Homo sapiens: one gene and its partners. The protein of the gene in region 1 purifies or fractionates together with the protein of each later gene. This does not show direct contact. Each region holds a gene or a part of one and is shown in the gene's direction. Other genes may lie near its edges.

Region 1 (3,583 bases):
CTCTGGGGTTCCCTTTCCTTTCCACTTTTGCTAGAGGCATTACCAGGCCCCAGTTTCTGCTTTGTCCTCCCAGCAAGGCTGGGGGCCAGCTGGTGTGAAGGGAAGGGAGCCCTCAGCACTCTCTGCTCACCTCCTTGCATGCCAGGACCTCTGCCAGGCTGGCCCTGGCACCCTGTGCCTCTGAGAGACTGGCGCTGTGGAGAGGTGCTTCTGTGGGCTTAGGTGAGGCCTCCAGGGCAGACATGCTAGATGGGGAGGGGCTCCCAGCTCCACCATGCTCCCTCGGCACTCACACCAAGCCTGCCAGAGTGCTGATTCCCTGTCCAAGCCTGGCCCTGCCTCTTGCTGGCTGTGTGGCCCGGACAAGTCATTTTCCCTCTCTGGGCCCAGCTCCAGCTCTGGGAGGCAGCTCAGCCTGGCTGGGGGATGAGGAAAGTCAGAGGTGTGAGGTGGCAGCCCTGTGCCAATAAGGAAAGGAAGTTGGGCTCTGGTGGCAGTGTGGGCCCATGGGGCCCCAGGCTGATGACTTCCTGCAGAGTGCAGCCTCTGGATCCACACTAGGGCCAAGCAGGGGTCGCCAGTCTCAGGGCTTCTTGGGGCGGCCACCCTGGGGTCAGCCCAGGAGGAGGGTACCCAAGGGCAGTGGGCTGCAGCTATGTTGCTCACATTTGTGGACATTTTATGCCTCAAAATGTGCTCTATATTTAGGGCTAAAGACCAGCACTGTCAGGCAGGTGGTGACTCAGAGAGGAAGAAGGGAAAAGAGGCAGAGGAGTGCTGGTGGGGAGACACCCCAAAACAGAAAGGTCCCACTGGGATTCCAGCCTTTCCTACTGCAAGAAAGGAAGCAAAACATGATACTCCTGCTTTGCACCAGCACAATGGGAGCAGCCTCGTGTGCCTACTCACTAAGCATTTAATGAGCATGTAGTGGATCCCAGGGACTGTGACAGGCACTGGGGCACAGAGATGAGCTGGGTCCTGTGGTCCCTGCCACAGCCCGGTGCTTTGTGTCAGATGAGGAGGTGAGGCTCAAAGAGAGAAAGTGACTTGCCCACTCTACAGGTTAATACCTCTGCCAACCGAGGCCACCCTCCCTCGGACCCCCATTCGGAGGAAGCAGACCCAAGTTCGAATTCTGACATTGCCACTGAGCAGCCGTACAACTTTTGGTGAGTTCCTCTCTCCCTCTGAGTCTGTTTCTTGATCTAGGAAGTGGGAATCATAGCACTTGCCTGATGAGTATGTTTCAAGGGATAAGAAGGTGAATGCAAGCAAACACTGAGGGCAGTGCCCAGCTTATCCTAGGCATTCTGCTGGGTCTAAAAGGACATAGATTGGGAGTCCTCAGAATGCCAAATCCAGTCTCTGCTGTGTGACTTTGGAAAAATCACCTGCCTTCTCTGTGCCTCATTTCTTTCTCCCTAGAACGGGGATGACGAGCTTTTATTTGCCTGCCTCCCTGGGGATGTTGTTTGCGAGGCCAGACATACTGGCTGGGAACTGCTTTGAAAAATATAAAGCTGCACTCAGAGAAACACAGAGAGACACACTGAAGGAAAAGCAAACACAAATCTGGAGAAAAATCTTTTCTAAAAACATCCAATACTTCTCTACAGCCAGAAAAAAAAAATAATAAGCCTTTTCTTCAGTGTTTTGAGAGTAGTGAGAATTTTTTCCGTAACTTCGCATTTCCAAAGTAGTTGGCATGGCTATCACCAGGTGAGCTGGGTAAGTTTCCTCCTTGAGGAGTCCTTGCCTGGCACATATTAGGTGTTCAGTAAGTGATAATGTTAGTAGTAGAATTACCAGTTGCACAGCAAGAGGAGAAGTGGAGGCGCTCCTGGAGGCGAGACCAGCTACGGCGTGGGCAAGGGCTGGGGGTGGCAATGTGGACACTGGGTTGGATTCATGGAAGGTGGGGGTAGGGACAAATCGGGGTCAGTCTATTAAGGGCCTTGAATGGCAGGCCGAGGAGTCTGCATTTCCCCAAAATCAATGCAGGATACACGGGAGGGGCAGGCTGAGCCCACTAGCCTGGAATGAGGAACCACCTGGCGTAGTTCTCTGCCCTGCCACTGCTGTGTAAGGATGGCCCCCTCGCCTGTTTCCCTGGGCCTCATTTTCTCCCAGTGTGCAAAGGAGAGGATTCCAGCCTCTTCCATCCCAGGGGCAGGCAAGAGGATCAAGGCACCAAGCCACCCGGGAACTAGGTTGCTATGAGAGCTGGAGAGCCGGGGGCTGTCATTGGTTCAGGAAGTCAGGAACCTTGTGTTCCGCTTCTGGCCCCACCCCACTAGCTGGGTGAGCTCAGGCAAGCCGCCCGGCCTCTTTGAGCCTCCCTTTCCATCTGTGGAATGGGAGGATGTAGTTTCTGTCTTTGCAGTACAGCTCCCATGAGTTGAAGCTGGTGACTGTGTTGTGTGAGCCTCAAGTGTGTTGTTGTATCTCTGGGGGAATTGCAGTATTTCTTGAAACTACAGTACCTGTTCCTCAGACTCCCCTGAGACGGTGGATCTGCTGGCAAGGCTGGGGTTTGGGGGCAGTGGGTGAGGATCAGATGCCTGAGCCACCTCAGAGGCTGTGACCTTCTCAAGGCCACGGGAGCCATGTGTCTGCCGCAGCCAGGCTGTGGGGGCAGCAGAGGGAAGGTGGAGGTGGGGCAGATGGGTCCAGCCCTCTGCTTGGCTCCTGAACTCTGGGCCCCAGTTCTGCGAGGGAAAGCCACCCCAGTACCCTGCTCAGAGGACAGCCCTCTCCAAGGCCTCACTCCTTGATTCAGGGCTCGAGGGGTAGGGTGGAGGTGGCTGATGGAGGGTGACCTTGGGAACTTCTTCCTGCCTGCAAGCTCGGTGCCAGAACTGCCAGGGCAGCCCTGATTCTTCTTGCTCAAAAGTTGGCAGCGTCAGGGACCCTCGAGAGGCTGCCAGGACAAGGCCTGAGCTGATGTCACCATCACCAGCCTCTTGCGTCTTCCCCTGTGTTGGAGGTCCAGAGAGAGGCCATCCACCCGCTGGCAGACTGCTGTAGGCACTGTGCCCACCCGGGCAGCAGGCTCAGGATGCCATGGGACTGAAGACTCTAGCCTTGCCTCATTCACCACTTGCCTTTCACTTGAGGTGTGGGAGCTCTGCCAGGGATAGAGGGTTGCCCTTACAGCCCCTCTCCCAGGGCTCCCTGCCTCTAGAAACAGGACTGGGCAGAGCCGCTGGGACAAAGACCTCACCTGTCCGAGTCCCCAAAGCCCACAGCCCTCCCTGGCTGGAGAGGTGTGGGCTCTGTAGTCCTCCGAAGGGCAGAGAAGCCTGGGTCCTGCACAAACTCTACAATGCTGGGCCCACCCAATGGCAGTCAGGGTGGGAAGTGGGCAGCTAGCTCAGGAATTCTAGGAAGATTCTGGATGGGGGGAGGCATGATGGGGCCTGAGCAATTGGATGCAGGTGGGGGCATTCATTGAGCACTTGCAGTGTGCTGGGCCCTATGTAAGCACTTTTCATGGATCTATCTCATTTAATCCTCTTAGCAACCCTCAAGGGCTCAGAGAGGTTAAATAGCCTGCCCCAGGTCACCCAGCTGGTGAGTG
Region 2 (4,239 bases), on another chromosome or scaffold:
GTCTGATCAGGGGCGGGAAGACCTGGAGGTCGGTAAAACGGAGCGGTGCGGGATGATGTCTGGGAACACCGGCAAGGTGTCATAAAATGAACGCCAAGGCGGCCACAAGAGGACGGCCGGGAACCGAACCCAGCGCCCAGCACGGGGCCCTTGTGGCCGACGTGACGTGGCTCCGTCAGGTGGAAACCGTGCGATCCTCTCCCGATCCAACTCACGAGAGATAAAGATGTCTAAATAACCACGACCGCCGCCGCACACCCTGCAGGGCCCCGGGGGCGGAGGGGAGGGGAGCGCCTCCTCGGCAGAAGCGGCGGCCCAGGCTTGTTTGGAGGTTCGCAATTCACCATGATAAATGTAAAGACCAATTAAGGTTTGATCCGTGCACACAGGAGGCAGACGGCGGCTGATAGTGGAAACAATTAACGAGCATGTCCCCTAATTCCTGCCGCGGCTGCTGAGCACACCGCGGCTCCCCAGGCGCCCGCCGCTGCCGCCCCCGAGTCCCAGAGCCCCCAGTCCGGCCCTGGAGTGGGGCGTCCTCCTCCAGCGAAAAGGTGCGAGGAGCGGGGCCCCGGGTGGCCGGGGAGGGGGCGCGCCGGGCCGGGAGGCGCGGAGCCAGCCGCCTACGGAGCCCAACTGTTTGCATCGGGGACCGGCGGGCGGGGCGCGCCCGAGTGGTCTCGCCGGGAAAGGGCGGCGGGCGCTGGAGAAGGCGCCTGGCGCGAAGCTGGGCGGCGCCCCGAGGGCGGAGGACAGGTGGCCGCGCGACCGCAGCCAGGTAGCGAACGGCTCGGGGGCTGCGCAGCGCGGTCCCAAAGCTCAGCCCGGCCCCGGGCCCAGCTCGCTGCCGCCTGCCACGGGAGCGGCCTTGCGCGGAGGGAGGGGGCGCGAGACCGCACCCCCGGGCCCGGCGCGCCTCGGCCTCTGGGCTCCCGCTCCCCTTCCCCTTCCGGCTCAGCCCGCTGCCCCAGACGTGACCCCCGCGGAAGGTGTTGGCGATGCGCGCTGCCCGGGAGCGTGTGATTAATGGCCCCGAGGTCGTGGGCGGCGCATGCACCAGCCCCTTCTTGGCCTGGTCAGGGTGTGAGGGTATCCGGGAGCACAGCGAGGTCATGGCAGCGGGGGCCTCCGGGAGCGCGGCGGCGGAGGAGGAGGAGGAAGAGGAGAAGTAGGTGACGCGGGCCGAAGAGGCTTGTCCCCTCTGGCCCCAGGGCTGGCGCCGCGGCGGGTCCCCCGCCCCAAGCAAAGTTTGGGGCTACGGGCGCTGCGCTCAGGTCCCTCCCCGCGCAGTTCCCTCGGCGGGGTCTGTGCCGCCGCCGCTGCCAGGGCAGGACAAAGGCTCATTAACACGTGATGGGACCGCGCTTCATAAATGGGACTGGAGCGAGAGGGAGCCAGAGACAGCGCGAGCGGAGGGAGCGGCAGGGACTGCGCGAGCGGGACGAGGCGACGGGCGCCCGGGCTGGCGGAGACGGGCGGCCCCACGCCGGGCCAGGCGGGGCTCGCGGGAGGACCCAGTGAAGAGCCTGGGAAGGGGCGAGGCTCGCCGGCGGTCGGAGCAGCGGGGCGCCAGTCCCGGTCGCTGTCGCGGGCGGGCGCTGGAGACCGGGACGCCGGCGCTCGGACGGACTGACTTGCTGACCGCCCGCCGGAGGCACACCCCACTCCACCCCACCCCGCCTCGCCAGCAGCCCGGCGCCGGCGCCGCCTCCCGCACGCTACTCCCTCTGCCACCCCTTCCTTCTCCACTTCTTTTCCGCCTCCGCCTCTTCTTGTCTCCCGCGGCGCCAGCGCCTTCCCTTGGCCCGGGCGGGGGCCTCGGCTCCCTGCAGAGCTCTCCGTAGTCAGTGGGGGATATTTCGTTCTAGCGGACAACCAGCCCCTGAGCTGGGCGAGAGGTGCCAAGGGAGCTTCTGTCCCGAGGACCAGGGGATGCGAAGGGTAAGACCTGGCAGAGTTGCGTTTGGAAATACTTTTTCCGCCTCCCGCCCCCTCGGGTACGACCAGTGTGGTCCCCAAGTGTCCTTCGTGGAGTTCTTATTCCGTGTGAGCGAATCGTGCGTCGGTGTTTACTTAGCTGTATGGCCCCAGCCTGTTAACTGTGATCTGTTCTACTTCTGGAGATTTCTACCATTTACTATTTATTGAATGTGTGTGCACCTGGCTCTGTATGCACTGATGTCTGTTTGTAGAAAATGGGTAATTGTGCATGTTTGAAAAACGGGCGCTTGAGTTGGTGCTGAATGCCTATAAACCATGTTAGCAGCTAAGTCTTCCCAGGGAAATACATCGATCTCTGCTGCAAGCCTAGAAACTGACTAATGTAAAATAGTAAATGTCATATAAAGAGATGTATGTCAAATAATAAACTTTTGATAAAAAGCTACAGGAACCACTTCTCTTTGAGGAAAAACAAATGTCCATGTAACTAATACCTAAAATTGAATGTTGATGGAACCGTTTAACTCAGAACTAGCTGTTAGATGACTAAAGTTAATGTTGCATTTTTAAAAGACATTTCTTGTTAAGGCTTACAAATCATAAACGGATCACCTCTCAAATAAAAATATGTTTGCTGTAATAGACATGAGAAACTGTCATTTGGTCATTTGGAAGTTTAAAAGCAACATGCATGTTTCTGATTTTAATAGATTGTCTCTCAGATATTTAAAATTGAACAGATAAAAAAACAAAAGAAATGTTTAGTAACGTATTAATCATTTTGCCTCCCATCTTTTTTTATTTTCCTCCAAATAAGTGCTATTCTTGCCTTTGTTGTTGATTTCCTGATATAGTAAGCCTCCTCGGGCATGTAATCCAATAAGAGATTAGAACAGATTTACTGGTTTTAAAGGTGTTGAAAGATATCTCTGTGGGTCCCATAACTTCTCCTCATTTTTATTACCAAGTTAATATCTTTTGAACAATGGGGGAAATGCAATTTCTTAGAGGAAGCTTAGCGGACACTGAGTATTAGTGGGGTCACCACTGACATCAATCTATTTTGCAGAATATTGAGAAGCTCAGAGCAACCAACCTTTAAGGTTCCCATAGGACTTTATGTGATTTAAAGTGTTGCTTTTCTAATCCTACCCTACTGACAGTTTGCAAGGGAAGATACACTAATTGATTTTTCTCTGTCCTTTTTTTCCCTGGTACTCCTCCCCCTCCCCCGCTCTCTAACTCAGTTAAGAGCAATTTTATAAAAATAAAAGGCCATTTATAGTTTCTTAAGTGAGACAAATTACTTTCAGATTATATCCATACATGAGCAGAAGACATGCACCTCCAGAATTTTAAACATTGCATACTACAGGCACTTATTTGTAGGCACAATGGCAGTTACCATAGTGGGGCAAGAGACTTGATGTGGGACATGGTTTTAAAAAACTAATCCATTTTAGCTTATCAGGAGAACTTACTGTAAACCGACTCTTTTTGTTTCAAAGATGTCTCCCACTCCAGGCGAGGAGCGCTCTTGGCTGAGGTATGTATCAAGTGTCTGATGGGGAGAGGTCTCATTGTGTTTCTCAGTGTCCATGGGGGTACAATGATGCCACAAGGTGGAAATACCCAATTCTGGCCTTTCACAAATAAAATTACTGTGCTTGCATACTCGTTGTTAGGAAAGCAAATTAGATATTCATGCCCCTGAATTTTAATAACATTAATATATGTATGTAAAAAGAATGTTATGACTAGAACCTTAAATAAGCCATAAGTGATTATTATTTAGTGTGTAAAGTTTTAAATTCTGATGAACACCAGGTCTCACATTGAAGTAGTGCTTGGCTTTGTTTGTTATCCACTGTTTTCTGTCTTTTTCTGTTACCCATTTCCCAGTGGACCATGTTCCTCTCTGTCTTGCCTGTGAGATTGCTCTTCTCTAATAAGCCTAGCTGCAGGATCAGTGTGTTCTTTTTGGCATTTCAAAATGGTAAAATAGTGAAATTGTTAAATGTTACCAAGATGAAACTGCTGGGAATGAAATTCTCAAAAAGAACCACTGTATTTGTGGCATATTTCAGCCTCTTCCAAAAGAAAACTCTTTGATTCGGTTTACCTATTTTCCCAAGAAGGAAGCAGCCCCATTGATTGTGTTGATAAGTGTTTAGTATGCAGTGTCAGCTTATTAATTACTAAGGCAAAGCCTGAGAAACTGTTTCAAAACAGTCGTATAACACTGTTCTTTGCTTTGACTCAAAATTAACATTAACCACGGGGAAATTTAGACAGGCT
Region 3 (3,583 bases), on another chromosome or scaffold:
AAACCATTCCATAGAAATGTAAAAAAAAAAAAAAAAAAAAAAAGAGGTTGTTATTGTTAACTCACATGTGTTGTGTAAAGATACCATTGAAAAAGTGGCTATCTAGTTTGATTTTTAGTTATATTTTCTGTGGAGTCAGTCTTGAAGACCTATGCTTTTTATAAAATGTTGATTATTCTTTTGGTTATATGAACAGAAAAGGACTTACAGAATTTCGTTGTTGAAAGCAAATTTTGAGCTGCCATATGCATTACAGGCAACCTTTGATTTTTTTCTTTTCTACAACAATGGAAAAACAGGTTTAGCCTGGATAATTGAAATCAAAGGACAATCCCAAATCTTGTCCATTTAATCTTCTCTCACATCCAAATATTTTGACTAGGACTAGCAGCAAGAATAATCTTGATTTATGTGATTTTTTTTTTTCTCTAGACAGGCAAGAAAGTAAGAGGAACTAGAACCACTTCCCTCCAGCCTCCTTCATTTGTTTAATCACCCTTTAAATAATGGTTTGTTAGTGGCTTGCAATCAGACCTTCTCATTCATCCTCATTCATTTGTTTTAGGACAACAAATTTTAAAAGGAAAGCTCTAAGAAGATGTTATTTTCTGTTTACTAAATTAGCAAATGAAACCATTGTTAAAAGAAGAAAATAGTGATTGTTAGTGCTCTGAAAAATCAAACCAAACCAAACAAACAATAAATAAGTGATCTTGAGGTTTTGTTCACATGGCACTCTTGATTAGAAATACCACATTTTCCCTACTGGGAATTTTTAGAACATTAGAAAATTTTTTCCCACACATTGATTATAATGTGTGAATATTTTTTTCACACAATATTATTTAGGGTATGTAATCAGTCCCCTAAAGGGATTCCTGTAGGGGCACTAGGTGAAGAGTGCAATTTATTTGAAATAGAGGCAGAATTTTTTCAATGCTGAGTATATTACGGTTTAATTTCCACCTTTCCAAAGTTCCATTTATAATTTGGTCAACATTTTGGTTTTATTTTTCCTATGAGAATTATTTATGGTGTATCTAGTGTCCCATAACTTCCTTCTGGGACATTGGCTGAGTATGTAAAGGGAAGAGTGCCACCTACTGAGTCACCAATAGTCACCTACCTCCTTAGCACCTGGGTTTTCCTATGGAGCAAGAACAAGCCTGCCCCATTTGGGCAGCAATCACTAAAGAGCATAAAGTTGATATGAGAACATTTAATCTCAAAATGAAATCTATCGTACCTCCAAGATATTCTTTTCTAGAAATAGGAATATATGTAAATTAAGGGACTAGAGGTTTACAGAGTTTTTTGTATGGGCTAAATAATATAGATGAATTAAGATGTGGTGTTAGGAAAATTATTTGCCTATTTTAAGTATATAATGTCCTGCTTTTTCTTGGGAGGAGATCTTTTGGCATGGCTGTCCATTGAAAGTATTTTCATCTCATTACTATATAAGGCTCTTGATACTACGTACAGTTTTTATAGCTACCCAATCCAAATTATCATTGGTTTTCTTCAAAAAGAAGAATCTAAACATATTAAAAAATTAGCATTATATGAAAAATTTGCAAATGGGCTTATTGCTCCTGTTACCAGCATTAAAGTATTACTAGAAAGAAGGTAGACACAACAGAGTAGGAAAAGCTGCTGGTGATTTGAAACACAGTTTAGTTGTCTCATAAATTTCAGATTAAGTGTCATATATGGGTGATAAAAGTGGCATAGGCTAGATTTTATATACTCATGATTCACTTAGTTTGTCTTTTTCAATTAAAGCTAAGTCTCTTTTTCATTCCACTGAATTTACATTTCTTTTTCAATCACATTCTGAACACATTACAATAGATGCTGCCTAAAACTGAATATAGTGTAAATCTCAGACTAATGTGTTATTCACTGTGGCTTCTTTGAAAATATGTAGTAAAAAGATTTTGATTATTGTAAGGTGCTATTTATCAAGAGTCATCTTTTAGGGTTGAAAGATGTTCAGCCCTACCTTTAAACAGCCCAGCTTTCTATCAAAATACATCATTTAGCTTCCCAAAGTCAATTTTGGAAATTTTGTCCAATGATTGGATTGTAAGACTCTGGTATTTTTTACCCATTGTACCATGAGAGCTCTTGTGCCAGTTCATGTCACCTTTTCCATGTTTGAAAAGTCCACAGTTCATCTGTAACCTGTAAAAGTGCTAAGTAATCAGGGAAAGACATCAGTTAGAACAATCAATAACTTTTCAATTAGCCATTTTCCAACTTTGGGCATTTGGCTCTGTTGATTTGCATGTGCCCAGTTTAATTGATTTTTATGTTTATCAGTACCTGTTTGGTCAGAGCCATACCCTGCTTTAACAGAGAAGAGCATGTCTTTTTTTTTTTTTTTTCCTGATGGTAGCTTACATTCTAGGGTAGGATCCCTATCATATTAAGTTTGGTGACAGCACATCTCAATGAAAGCAGAGAGAAATCTGGCCCAATTCACAATGTAGAGAGAGATGTGGAATTAAGTTAGAAAGGCCATGGGGGTGCTGTGTGATTGGTTTTACCTTTATTTTATTGATCTGCGGCTAAGCATATGGTGGTAGATTCAGCCCAATTCTTGCGCCCTCCCCCTCCCCCATACAATTCAGGCCATCACAGAGGCTGAGTGTGTGTATATGCATGGGCCAGGAGGTATTGGGTGGTTGGAGGACTAGGCAGGAAGAGGAGGTGTTACCTTTGTGACTTGTTTTTAACCTCCAGTATGCAAGCCCTATTCTAGGCTGTTTGATAGTCGGGGGTGGTGAGGACAAGTGGCCAAACTGCTTTTCAAGAGTGGGAATCTGTGCTAGATACTACATCCAGAAGCTGAGAGTTACTTTATCATTTGCAAAAAAATTTAAACTGTTCTGACCTGGTGTAGTTCCACCTTTTCACTATGTGATCTGTGTAGAAGTTGGCAGAAAGCAGTTAGTGTGTGTGTGTTAGATACTTGTCCCAACCACTTGCGACTCCAGGGAAAGGTGGGGTGGCTGTTTTTTAGGAGGTCTATATGTTAAAAGGGGGGAAAAAGGAAGATTGGAGTACTATTCAGTGATTTGGTGTGTTTGCCTCTTAGGGGTCTCCATGGCAATTGAGAGATTTCTAACTTAAACTGCTCAAGATTGCTGAGCCAGTATACGTCAACTTTTAATTTTGTTTTCAGACCTTAACATTTATCGACAGAGCAGTTGTAAATCTGATCTTTTCAGAGGCCTTCTCCCCCAGATCCTTACAGCTGTACCGTGAGATAAGGTTTACTCTTGACAGTGTTAAGGTGTATTAGGAGCTAAAATCCCATCACGTTTACTTTCACCAGGATAACTTTTTCCTGCTGATGACTTGGGCTGGGGTGGAGGCTGATGGAGATAGGGGTAATTCTGGGGTTAAATGCAAGCAGTGTAGACTCTGCAGTCTATTTGGCTGCCGGCCCGGAGGCAGGAGATGGGGGTGGGTGGGGGTAGTTAGACCTGGTAGTTAAACCCTTTCCCGCGGGCGCAGAGTGGGCCTCCCACGCTTCTCTCCCGTGGCCAGTATGCGTGAGAGTGTGAGTTGAGCC
Region 4 (4,091 bases), about 130 Mb from region 1:
ATCTAGACTCACTGCAACTTCCGCCTCCCGGGTTCAAGCAATTCTCCTGTCTCAGCCTCCTGAGTAGCTGGGACTACAGGCGTCTGCCACCATGCTCGGCTAATTTTTGTATTTTTAGTAGAGACGAGGTTTCACCTTGTTGGTCAGGCTGGTCTCGAACTCCTGACCTCAGGTGATCCACCCGCCTCTGCCTCCCGAAGTGCTGGGATTACAGGCGTGAGCCACCGCGCCCGGCCCTGAATAGGTTTTCAATGGGAGAGAGGTGGAGGAAACAGAGTGGAAATTACGATGAGTGCTAAAGGACAGATCACCCCAAGCTGTATTCACAGCCCAGGCCTGAAGGAAGCCTGGGTTCCCAGTCCATCCTGGTCTCTCCTCCCTCCTGTCATATCCAAAGCTCAAGGCCCTCACCCCAAACGGTTAAGTCACCCCAGGCCTTTAAGACTTTTCCTGCCTGCCCACTCTCCGTCCGACCCCCAGTTCTGTCCCTGCACTCCTTCAACCTCTGCACTTCATCACTCCACCGCCCTCCCGACCCCCTCCACCGAGCAGAAGGACGTGAACTAACTCACCTCCCAGTCGGTGCCTCTGAGATCTCCGAGACTGGGGGGGCGGGGGGCGGGCGAGGGGAGATGGCTTGCTGTTTAGGGATGAGGGGACCCCATCCTTTGCCAGGGGGTTCCAGCCCCAGCCTGGCACCCTTTCCTGGCCCCCACAACACGCAGAGCCCAGCTCTCCCCCCATCGCTGCTGCGGGCTTTGTCTTCTCTGCCGAGAACCTCTCCCCGCGGCCGGGCTCCGGGATCGACTCTGGGAGAGCGGGAGGGGGAAGCGGAGAGTGAGCGCGGCAGGGAGCGGGGAGAGGGGAGCGAGAGAGAAAGCCGCAGTGAGCGAGCGGGGACGGCTCCCGGCTCCCCGCCCCCGGCCCCGGCCCCCCCTCCTCATTTCCATAAAAAAGCGGGCCCCCAGGACCGGCCGGCGCGGGGCAGGAGCGGGTCCTGGGAGGGGGCGCGCGGCGTTAGCCAGCTTCATACCCGCTCTGTTTCCGCATACTACCCCTTCTCCCCGCACCCTCCCCTTAAAAAATTAGGGACCTCGACTTCCATCCCACTCCTAGCTTGCCCCGGAGCTGCGAGGAAAGACCGAAGGCCACATCCCTATCCTCCTCGGGTCAAGGAATTTGTCCCCGCGCCCCCAAGGGCGGGAAACTACAACTCCCGGCATGCCCCGGGCGCCCCCGGCGCGCCCCCCTCCCGTCAGTTTCATGCTGCTCCATCCAGTTCATTTAAAACAAAAGAGTTTGAGCGCTGGAAGGGGCTGGGCTCTATTGGGGGCCACTGAGCGCCGCTCCCGGACTGGGGCTCGGTGCGGGAGCCTAACGGGGGCGCCTGGACAGCGGGGGCTAGAGACTCCCAGGTCCGAGGCGGGAGGGGTGGGGGCAGAGATCCTGCAGCCCCCCGCCCCCCGTCACCCCCGGAGAGGAGAGGAGATCTGCTTTCTTGGTTTTGCTTCTCTTTCCCCCCACCCCCACCCCGGGGGCTGGGGCGAGGGGAGTCGGGTTACAGGGTGTTTGGGGAGGGGGGCTTAGGGGGAGGGTCTATCTTTCTATCTCGCTTTCTTCCCCCCTCCCCAGTTCTTTGTTCCCCCCTCCCCACACACCCCCTCCTCTCCTCTCCCCTCCCCTCCTCTCTCCTCTTTTCCCTTCCACCACCTCTCTCTCTCTCTCTCCCTCTCTCTCTCCCCCAGCTTTTGTTTCGCCATGCCTAGTCTAGTGGTATCTGGAATAATGGAAAGAAATGGGGGCTTTGGAGAACTAGGATGTTTCGGGGGAAGCGCTAAGGACCGAGGGCTGCTGGAAGACGAGCGCGCCCTTCAGCTGGCTCTCGATCAACTCTGCCTCCTGGGTTTGGGGGAGCCCCCCGCCCCCACGGCGGGCGAGGACGGGGGAGGTGGGGGGGGCGGCGCCCCCGCGCAGCCGGCCGCCCCCCCGCAGCCGGCCCCGCCGCCGCCGCCCGCGGCGCCCCCGGCCGCCCCGACGGCGGCCCCCGCAGCGCAGACGCCCCAGCCCCCCACCGCCCCCAAAGGGGCGAGCGACGCCAAGCTCTGCGCTCTCTACAAAGAGGCCGAGCTGCGCCTGAAGGGCAGCAGCAACACCACGGAGTGTGTTCCCGTGCCCACCTCCGAGCACGTGGCCGAGATCGTGGGCAGGCAAGGTAAGCGGGGCGCCGGGACCACTGAGAGGGACTGTAGTGGGGGCACCCTCGTCCCTAGCGCGGAAAGTTCATTTCTTCCCTTCTTGCCCGCCTCCGGCTCTGTCCCTTCCCCACAAAGGGGGACCCGCCCCCTACCCTGATTTCAAAGTGCCACAAAGTTCCCCGTTACCCCTAGTCGGGACGGTTCTCCAGATCCTTCCTCCCCCAGGACTCTGCCTTTAGACAAAGAAATATCCTCGCACTGGAAGAGGGAAAGGGGAGGGGATCGGTCTCCCAATCCAGGGAGGCTGTCCTGAGGGGGTGTCCACTCCTAACCAGAAAAACTGACGGAATGTGCAAAGAGTTACTCAGAAGCCTGTACTCTGGTATCTGCTCCTAGGCTGGGGAGGGGGCATCCCTGGGGCCCCCAGCCGCCTGGAGTTACAGACTTTGGGGGAGACCTGGCCCTCGAAGCCAGACTGAGTATCTGTCTCTTTGTTGGGCTGAGTGTAGGAATGGAAGGGGGTGTGGCCCAGGGGAGGGTCCCAGCCTGGGGAAGAGGCGGTGAGGGGGGCTGCTGAGAGGAGGGGGTCCTGTGGTCACCCACACCCCAAAGTTGGATTGTCTCTGGGGTTTTGGAAGGGGTGTCTCCAAGGAAGTGCTACGTCCTGGCTTGGACCTCTCCTCTTCCCTCTCTGGCTTTTGTTCTGGGCTGGCCACGGCCTTGGGCCAGAGGCCTAGAGAGGGGTCTCTGGTAGTGAAAGAGTAGGACAGGGTAGGAGGGGGAATGCTGGGGGGTAAGAAACCTTCACCTGGAAATTTGGTGGAGGGCGTGTGTCTGGGTGTGTTGGGAGGGGGTGCAGAATTAATCCAGCGTAGTATGTCTGGTACCACACCCTCTGCTGCTCCAGCATCCCTGGGTGGGTGAGTGGGGGTGTTGGTGAAGGTCCAAATTGAGCAGACGGGATCTTGGGGACCCTTCCCTCTCCTGGCTTCTCAAAGGAGAGTGTGGGGGGCAGGATTTGGAAATTGCAAAGAGGCTGGGCTGGGGAGGTGTGGGGTGGGGGAGGAGCTGTCCCACAGTGGGGAACAATAGAGGAGCTGCATTCCGGCTGGGAGTGCGGGAGGAGGCCAGCTTCTGGCAGAGGAAAAGGGGAGGCGGGCCAGGGGGGCCCCTACTCCACATCCCACCTTATCCACTGGGAGTGCTGGGGGTTAGGGGGATTTCACGGAGAGATCCAGAATGGAGGAGGGGAAGATGCCACTCCCCTGCACAGCCCTCATCCCCCTGGGGCACTCCATCTCTTGAGATTTCTGATTTAGAAAGTTGGATTTCCTCTTGTCAGAAACTGGGGATCCAAAGCCCTGGAATTGGGTGGGGACGGACATTGCTATCTTTTCTTGGGTGTGGGGGTGGTCTTGGGAGGCCCCGGAATTTAATGGAGTCATTCTTTCCTCTTCTGCCTCCGCATCAGATGGGCTTGTCCCTCATAAAAGTAAGGGGATTTTTATTCACAAAAGATAAGCCTGCCCCTCAGTCAAGTATATGGAAGTCCTCCCTCTTGTCTAACCTCCCTCCTCCTGCTGCAGTGTTAGTGCTCCTCTGTTTGACCTCTAGGAAGGTGAAGCCCAGTGGGTCTTCCCTTCAAGAGATGCTTCTTTGGGGTTGCAGAACCCAGGAAGAGACCCACCACCAGCTTTGCACCTCCAGGCCTCTAGCGTTTCTTCTTACTCGATGCCTTGGCCTGTCCTCCTCACCCCAACCCCAACCGCTAAAGATACCTAGCTCTCATTTAAGTTTTTGGACCCAAAACTTACGGCCAGAACCCAGGTGCCCATCAAACGATATGTGAGTAGAAATGGTAGGAGAGGGGAGTTCACTGTTTTGTGACCCTCCATA

What was found.
Region 2: the proteins of RAP1GAP (region 1) and CNR1 purify together in Homo sapiens (affinity purification with western blotting, with the first as the bait; one study listed by BioGRID). This does not show direct contact.
Region 3: the proteins of RAP1GAP (region 1) and SKAP2 purify together in Homo sapiens (affinity purification with mass spectrometry; one large-scale study listed by BioGRID and IntAct). This does not show direct contact.
Region 4: the proteins of RAP1GAP (region 1) and MEX3A purify together in Homo sapiens (affinity purification with western blotting, with the first as the bait; one study listed by BioGRID). This does not show direct contact.

The regions. Positions count from the first base shown.
Region 1 is NC_000001.11:21,662,800-21,666,382, reverse strand, and holds part of RAP1GAP (rap1 GTPase-activating protein 1), read left to right. Parts: intron 1-1,065; exon of another isoform or gene 1,066-1,172; intron 1,173-3,583. UniProt on the Homo sapiens protein: GTPase activator for the nuclear Ras-related regulatory protein RAP-1A (KREV-1), converting it to the putatively inactive GDP-bound state.
Region 2 is NC_000006.12:88,163,505-88,167,743, reverse strand, and holds the start of CNR1 (cannabinoid receptor 1), read left to right. Parts: upstream 1-1,396; 5' UTR 1,397-1,941; exon of another isoform or gene 1,942-1,997; intron 1,998-3,449; exon of another isoform or gene 3,450-4,239. UniProt on the Homo sapiens protein: G-protein coupled receptor for endogenous cannabinoids (eCBs), including N-arachidonoylethanolamide (also called anandamide or AEA) and 2-arachidonoylglycerol (2-AG), as well as phytocannabinoids, such as delta(9)-tetrahydrocannabinol (THC).
Region 3 is NC_000007.14:26,858,076-26,861,658, reverse strand, and holds part of SKAP2 (src kinase-associated phosphoprotein 2), read left to right. Parts: intron 1-3,583. UniProt on the Homo sapiens protein: May be involved in B-cell and macrophage adhesion processes. In B-cells, may act by coupling the B-cell receptor (BCR) to integrin activation. May play a role in src signaling pathway.
Region 4 is NC_000001.11:156,079,666-156,083,756, reverse strand, and holds the start of MEX3A (RNA-binding protein MEX3A), read left to right. Parts: upstream 1-1,291; 5' UTR 1,292-1,758; coding exon 1,759-2,212; intron 2,213-4,091. UniProt on the Homo sapiens protein: RNA binding protein, may be involved in post-transcriptional regulatory mechanisms.